Homo sapiens: one gene and its partner. The protein of the gene in region 1 interacts with the protein of each later gene in a pairwise test. Each region holds a gene or a part of one and is shown on either strand. Other genes may lie near its edges. The genes, in order: SULT1C2 and RASGRP3.

Region 1 (3,824 bases):
AGATCAAAATAAAGTCCCTAAGTTTAGAAACTGCAGAGGAAACTGAAACTCAGAGAGGCAAATTGAGACTGGGACTCTCCAGGGGAAATCTGATGACCTGGATAATCCAGCAATTTAAGTTTTAATGGCTGCACAGGGACAGGGTCAAAGCCCATGGCACAAGGAACCAGAAGAATGAGGAGCCAAAGCTGGGACCACTGAAGGGCTACATCCTCAATGGATGGGTGGAGGAGGCAGAGAAAGACCTTAGGGAACCACTCTGCCTTGACCTAGGCGCTCAGCTCCCTTGAGAATGTATAGCCACAGGTTTACTCCCTCGGGGTTTGAGATTGAAAATTGCACTCCTTGCATTGTCCAAGAAACTACAAGCAGAGACATTCCACAAGGTGGTCCCCACAGCCAGTGTTCCCAGGTCCGCTCTGGAGGGACACAGCTGCAACTCAGACCCCCATAGGATCCCCACTTGAGCTCACCATCCCACATTACAAAATACACAAAAGAACAAGCCACCATGAGATGCAGTCTTCAGAAAGAACCCATGGAAGAGTCAGACCTCAAGAACTTCAGACAATGTAATTATCAACTCTAGAAATAAGAGAAGGTTCAAGTTGTGTGAATAAATGAAAAAGTGTATCAAAAATAAAATAAAGAAATAAGATGCTACTTTTAGACACAGAAATATTAAGTAAATAAATGGAATTTCTATAACAAAAAAATATAAAATCATGGAAATTAAAAACTCAAGCATAGGATAAAGTGCAGAACAGCTGCATAGAGAATTAGTGAACTCAGACAGGAAGGTTTGAGGGTAAAGGTTTGAGGAGAGAGGAGAGACCTGTGTCTGGAGCTAAGAGCCAAGAGATGGAGCACGGGAGGGATTAATAAAAGGATTATCAAGCAGCAATGAAGAGGAAGAAAACTGAGCATAAAAAATTTAGAAACTAGGGGAATTTTTTAAATCAGCATTTCTTAAAACCTTCTTTACTGGTGCTTGGCAGCTTGGTAAGTTGGAGAAGAGAAGATGGGGAGTAGGACTTAGTAGACAGTAACAGAGTCAACGCTTTCAGGAGCAGGGTTTCTCAACCTTAGCACTTGCTCTAAAGGGCCTGGGACTTGATATAATCAGGCATGGCAAGACATGCAGGTACAGTGGTGACTGTCATAAGGAAGAAGTGTGTCCTCGCAGATACCTAGAACAGGAGGCATGGCATGTCACACAGAGCCTCACAGGGAAGCAATGGGATAGGTCAGGAGGAAGAGACAGTGAGTAGAAGACATGGGCAAGAGCCTTGATGTGGTTTCTTTGGGAAGGAATAGTTGAGGCAAGGTAGGCAGGCTTGGGATTGGCCAGTTTGAACCACTGGAGCAGGCTTTCAGCCACAGGGGCTTGGCCTAGTGGTCTGGTATCTGACCCTGGGGTGTCAGGGCAGGTGAATAATGGCCCAGTGTGTAAAAGCCCAACAGTGGAAGTGTTGGGGGTATAGGCTCTGGGGTGTTGTAGGCAGTTCCTCCAGAGTCAGCAAAGCCCCAGGATGTCAAAGCATCAGATACAGAATATAAAAGACATAATTAATACAGCACTCCTGACATTTGGGGCAGATTTTTCTTTCTTGTGGGTGGGAGCAAGGGGACTCTTCTATGTATTGTAGAATGTTGAACAGCATACTTGGCCCCTGCATGGATGCCAGTAGCACCACTACTCCAAGCTGTGCAACCAAAAATGTCTCCAGACATTGCCAAATGTCCCCTAGTGGATACAATCATCCCATCATCCCCAATTGAGAACCACTTAAAAGTGAAAGAATAAAAAAGCACAGCATTGAAATAGCTGGTCATAGATCTGAGATGCATAGTCAAGAGGCCCATTTGGCATTGATGCCATTAAAATGTGAACTGAGTACTGGATAAAAGGTCAGATTTGGTAAAATGAAAGGTTGGGAGAGTGCAGGGATGTGAAATTGTGGGCAAAGTGGAACTTGAAGGAATGTTTGTAGGGGCAGAGCTGAAATGATTAGAGATGGAAATCATTCAAGCCGAGGAGGCCAGGAGAAAAATAGGAGCTATTTTCTTGCTGTGTGGCTCAAACTCTTAAACATGAAGCTTCTGTGCATCTTTGGGAGGGTGCGCGAGGGGTCATCAGTTTACGTTGATACTGTGGAAGTCTCCTATTCAAGTGGCAGGTCATAGTTTACAGAAAAAGATTTTGCTCCTGATACCAAAGGGGCAATCAGGCAATCTAATCCTCACCAATCCCTAATTGATTAGCTAATTAAAAGGACTGAGTTTGAAGTAGAGAGCAGACTTGGTGACAAAGCAGAGACAGAAAGAAGAGGGAGGTCACAAGGCCAAGTCGCAGGGCCAGCACTGCAGAACTGAGCCAGAGTGCACAGCAACCCTCAGGATGGCTCTGCCTAAGGGAACTCTGTGAAAGTCCACTTTTTATACCATCTTTTACCCACCTCTTTTCTTACCCCAAAGTTCCTTTATGTAGCTCGAAATGCCAAAGACTGTATGGTTTCCTACTACCATTTCCAAAGGATGAACCACATGCTTCCTGACCCTGGTACCTGGGAAGAGTATTTTGAAACCTTCATCAATGGAAAAGGTACGGGAACATCCTTCACACCCTTGCATTCTCACTCCAGCTAGGCTGGGTCTAGGGAACCACAGGCAGCATTTTATCCCCTAGAATGCCTGTACTTCATCAGGTGTGTCCTACCACAGACTGGGACTGGGCAGAGCAAGCTGGCCACTGAGTGTATGCCCACAGCCCTCAGCAAACATCTTCCACCTGATTCAGAGTCTTTAATTACAGCCATCCTCTTCCAAAAGGTGTCCTTGTCCCTATGTGATTGCACATAATAGGAAGCCACTTTAGGGACGATGTTGGGGCAAGTAACCCTAAGGCTGTCCCCATCTACACCACCCTCAAAATCAAACAGATCAGAACCCTTAGGACATATCTAATACAGAATTTGGGTTTTCTCTCTCTAACTCACTTCAGGAAAATCCCTAATACTCAGAAGGTTTTGTGTGATGCCTATGTAGACTATTCTGTTTCCTGTGTCTATTTCAGTGGTTTGGGGTTCCTGGTTTGACCACGTGAAAGGATGGTGGGAGATGAAAGACAGACACCAGATTCTCTTCCTCTTCTATGAGGACATAAAGAGGGTGAGTGAAGGCTCTGCAGAAGAACCATTTTAAAGTGGTTCTTCAGGTGCAGAGAAATTCAAAGTTGTTTCAAAGGACATCCCAGAGAATTGTAGTATTTCTTTATGATACTCTCATTCATTCCAGTCCAATGTTACCCTTGCCGCAGGACCCAAAGCATGAAATTCGGAAGGTGATGCAGTTCATGGGAAAGAAGGTGGATGAAACAGTGCTAGATAAAATTGTCCAGGAGACGTCATTTGAGAAAATGAAAGAAAATCCCATGACAAATCGTTCTACAGTTTCCAAATCTATCTTGGACCAGTCAATTTCCTCCTTCATGAGAAAAGGTGTGTGGGGCCTCTTTATCATACATTCAGATTGTCTCGTAACATCCTGTCTGCCTCTTAGCAGACAATATTGAGTTTTATTAATTCCAAGCCAATGCATTTCAACTATTCCTAATATGTGTTTCTAATAAAACCAGGGATTTGATCCTGTTGTAGAAGAGAGCTTTCTAGGGTATTGTTCCAGTATTTGGTTGCAAGGAACAGAGAGTCCCTCAAGCTAGCCCCAAAGAAAGGGGCTTACTGTGAAGATTCACCATGGACAATAAAGGAAATGCAATCACATAGAAAACTAGGAAGAGGAGCCACCACTGGTCCAGACCTCCC
Region 2 (3,824 bases), about 75 Mb from region 1:
ACGACGGGGATACATTCTAAGAAATTCATCATTCGATGATTTCATGATTGTGCAAACATCATAGAGTGCACTCACACAAGCCTAGATGCTGTAGCCTACTACACACCTAGGCTATATGATACAGCCTATTGGTCCTGGACTACAAACCTGTACAGCATGTCGCTGTACTGAATTCTATAGGCAACTGTAACACAATGGTGGGTATTTGTGTATCTAAACATAGAAAAGGTGCAGTAAAAATATGGTATAAAAGATAAAAAGTGGTACACCTGTATAGGGTGCTTATCATGAATGGAGCTTGCAAGACTGGAAGCCGCTCAGGGTGAGTCAGTGAGTGAGTGGAGAGTGAATGTGAAGGCCTAGGACATTAGTGTACAATATTGTAGACTTTATAGACACTATACACTTAGGCTACACCAAATTATAAAAATATTTTTCTTTCCTCAATAATAAATTAACCTTAGCTTACTGTAACTTTTATACTTTATAAACCTTTAAAAACTTTTTAGTCCTTTTGTAATATACACCTTAAAACACAAATATATTGCACTGCTGTAAAAAATATTTTCTTTCTTAATATCTTTATTCTACAAACTTACTCTATTTAAATTTTTTTTTTTACTTTTTAAACTTTTTTCGTTAAAAGCAAAGACAGAAACACACGCATTAGCCTAGGTTTAGGTTTACACAGGCTCAGGATCATCAATATCACTGTCTTCCACCTCTATCTCTTGTTCCCCTGGAAGGTGTCTGCAAGAGCAGTAACAGGCATGGAGCTGGTCATCTCCTATGATAACAATCCCTTCTTCTGGAATAGGTCCTGAAGAACCTGCTGAGGCTGTTTTACAGTTAACTTTTTAATTTTTTAAGTAAAAGGAGTACTCTAAAATTACAACAAAAATAATATAGTAAATACATAAACCAATAACAGTCATTTATTCTCAAGTATCATATACTATACATAACTGTGCACACTAGACTTTTATATGACTCACACAACAGCAGGTTTGTTTACACCACCATCACTACAAACACATGAGTAATGCATTGGGTTACAACATTATGCTGGCTACCATGTCACCAGGCAATAGGAATTTTTCAATCCCACTATAATCTTATTGGACCACTGTCACATATGCAGTCCTTCATTGACTGAAACGTTGTTATGTGGTGCATAACTGTATAAGGCATTAATCCTAAATACAAAATCTTTTTGGTTAAAATAGTGTTTCTCGGCCAGGCGCGGTGGCTCACACCTGTAATCCCAGCACTTTGGGAGGCCGAGGTGGGCGGATCACAAGGTCAGGAGATCAAGACCATCCTGGCTAACACGGCGAAACCCCGTCTCTACTAAAAATACAAAAAATTAGCCAGGCATGTTGGCGGGTTCCCACTACTAGGGAGGCTGAGGCAGGAGAGTGGTGTGAACCCGGGAGGCAGAGCTTGCAGTGAACCGAGATCGTGCCACTGCACTCCAGCCTGGGCAACAGAGCGAGACTCCATCTCAAAACAATGTAGTGTTTCTCTGTACTACCAACTTTAATTATGTATAGTTGCCAGACTATTTGTAATTACAGTTGGCAGTTATTGGTTAATAAGTGTGGAGGAAGGCAAAACTAATCCTGTAAGTGGCTTCTTCTTCAGACCAAAAAAATGCATTCCAGAGCTATAATAAATCAAGTTTCAATTGTTCAGTGTGGAAGTCATCAGAGGCCACTTCTCTCCGTATTTGAGTGTCTATATAACCCCAGCATGGTCCTCTTATTAGGAATTGGTATACATTGAGGGCACAGCTGCAGGGGTGTGCAAAGGAAAGGAGGTGCAAGGATTTTTTTTCTTTAACTGGTTTACGTATCGAAATGCCACTGGAGAAAGCTGCAATGAATTTCGATTAAAGATCTGCTACTTCATGAGGTAAATATATTTACAAATTTAATTTCTTGTAGTTTCTGGTTCTGGAATCGTGGACAATTTCCTTTTCCCCAAGCTGCAGACCTAGTTTGACAACAGACTCTACTCTGATACCCCTCCCACCAACTTTGTTAAAATTGGCTCTCCTCTGTTGGGTGGGGTGGGGGGAACTATCTTTTGGACTAGAGATCAAGTAGTAGTAAATGTGATTACGGAATGAAACTAGCTCTTAGAAAGGGTGGATTTATTTTCTTCTATTCCCTCACCACACCCATTCCCATCTACTCACCATGAATTGAAGGAAGGGTTTCCTCTCAACTGAAAGAGAGGCTATGAGTGGGAGCGGTTTTAGATTGAAGGAGGGCAGAGAGAGGCTCCATGTGATGGATGGGGTTTTGGAGACAGGAGATGGCTAATTTGAAGTGTGGTCCTGGATGGTCCTGGACTTGGTGTTAAATGTAGTCTGTAAAACGGTACAATCGTTTCCATAGATAACCAACTTGCAATCTTCCAGCTGCCAAAAATATTTGATGCCTTTCAGGTACTGGATTCTGAAGTTTCCTGCAGAGTTTAATTTGGATCTTGGTTTGATTCGTATGACTGAGGAATTTCGGGAAGTAGCTAGTCAACTAGGATATGAAAAACACGTCAGCCTCATCGACATATCCAGCATGTAAGAGTGGCACCGACGTCTTTCACACCCAATAAGTCCACCACTTAGGGGAGGAAGTAGTGATCACCCCACTTGTTCTGAGTCCATCCCACTCCTGAATCCAGGTTTGCTTCTGTGAGGAAAGCCTTGCTGCAGTGAGCGCAAGCCGTATGGGACACAGCTCATCTCTCCAAGCTTCAGTTTTTTTTATTTGTAAAATGTGGACGATACCTTTCTCATGAGATTATTATGAACATTCAATAAGGACACAAGATAGCACATGAAAGGATTTGGCATGCAATAGATGCTCAGTGTTAGTTACTGAGTCTGAATCTACTTAATGTCTCTTACACCTTCACTGATTAAAGTGTGGTCTGCAGACCAGCAGCATTGGCGTTACCTGGGAGCTCATTAGGAATGCAGCCTCTAGGCCCCACCTTAAACCTGAATTGGAATCTGCACTTTAAAGATCCCCAAGTGATTCACATGCAAGCTTGAGAAGCTCTGTACCATGGTGCTGCTGAGGTTGGCCTCAGAACAACAGCCTTATGGTGGTTGACCATAGATGTGCCAGGAGCTGGTTAGCTCAGTTATTAGGTAACCGGTGCAATTAGGCCACTTTCATATCAACTAGGTAACTTTGCACAGGGAAGACTATTTGATGATCCTAAATATGGCTATCCATCTTGCAAATGTCTGTTCTTGTGTGTTACGTATTCATAGTCTACTCTGTTTTCCACTGTCGATTACTATTGAATACTTCTTCAATAGTAATCAATAGTGAATGATCCAGGAATTATAAGGGATGTTTGGTGAAAATACATATTATTCAGGATCATTCCTAATAAGTCAGAACCTCTGGCAGCGAGGCCCAGGCCTCTGTCTTTATAACAAGCTTTTCAGATAGTTCATGTTATACTAAAGTATGAGAACCACAGCTTCTAGTGGTTTCCATGTGTCTTAAATCACCACCTATATCCTGATAAACTCCCAAATTTATATACTAGCCCCGACCTTTCCTGTATGATCCAGACCTTGCCGGTCACAAAGACACTAAGTAAGAAATTCTGGATGGTTCAGTGCAAAACCTACCCTGTCTGGAAAAACAACTGCAAGTTTATGTTCTGTTGGCAACTGGTCAGTGGTTTTCTCTTCCAATATGAAAGACAGGGCATGTATTTTGCACAAGTCCCTGGAAGCAAGCCAAGAGTTGCAGAGTCAGTAGGTTAATAACTTCCATTGAGTGAAATGGGCTTTCAAC

What was found.
Region 2: the proteins of SULT1C2 (region 1) and RASGRP3 interact in a two-hybrid assay, tested with the Homo sapiens proteins (one large-scale study listed by BioGRID and IntAct).

What each region holds. Positions count from the first base shown.
Region 1 is NC_000002.12:108,302,096-108,305,919, forward strand, and holds part of SULT1C2 (sulfotransferase 1C2), read left to right. Parts: intron 1-2,478; coding exon 2,479-2,605; intron 2,606-3,076; coding exon 3,077-3,171; intron 3,172-3,319; coding exon 3,320-3,500; intron 3,501-3,824. UniProt on the Homo sapiens protein: Sulfotransferase that utilizes 3'-phospho-5'-adenylyl sulfate (PAPS) to catalyze the sulfate conjugation of phenolic compounds. Does not transfer sulfate to steroids, dopamine, acetaminophen, or alpha-naphthol.
Region 2 is NC_000002.12:33,518,101-33,521,924, forward strand, and holds part of RASGRP3 (ras guanyl-releasing protein 3), read left to right. Parts: intron 1-1,851; coding exon 1,852-1,914; intron 1,915-2,452; coding exon 2,453-2,584; intron 2,585-3,824. UniProt on the Homo sapiens protein: Guanine nucleotide exchange factor (GEF) for Ras and Rap1.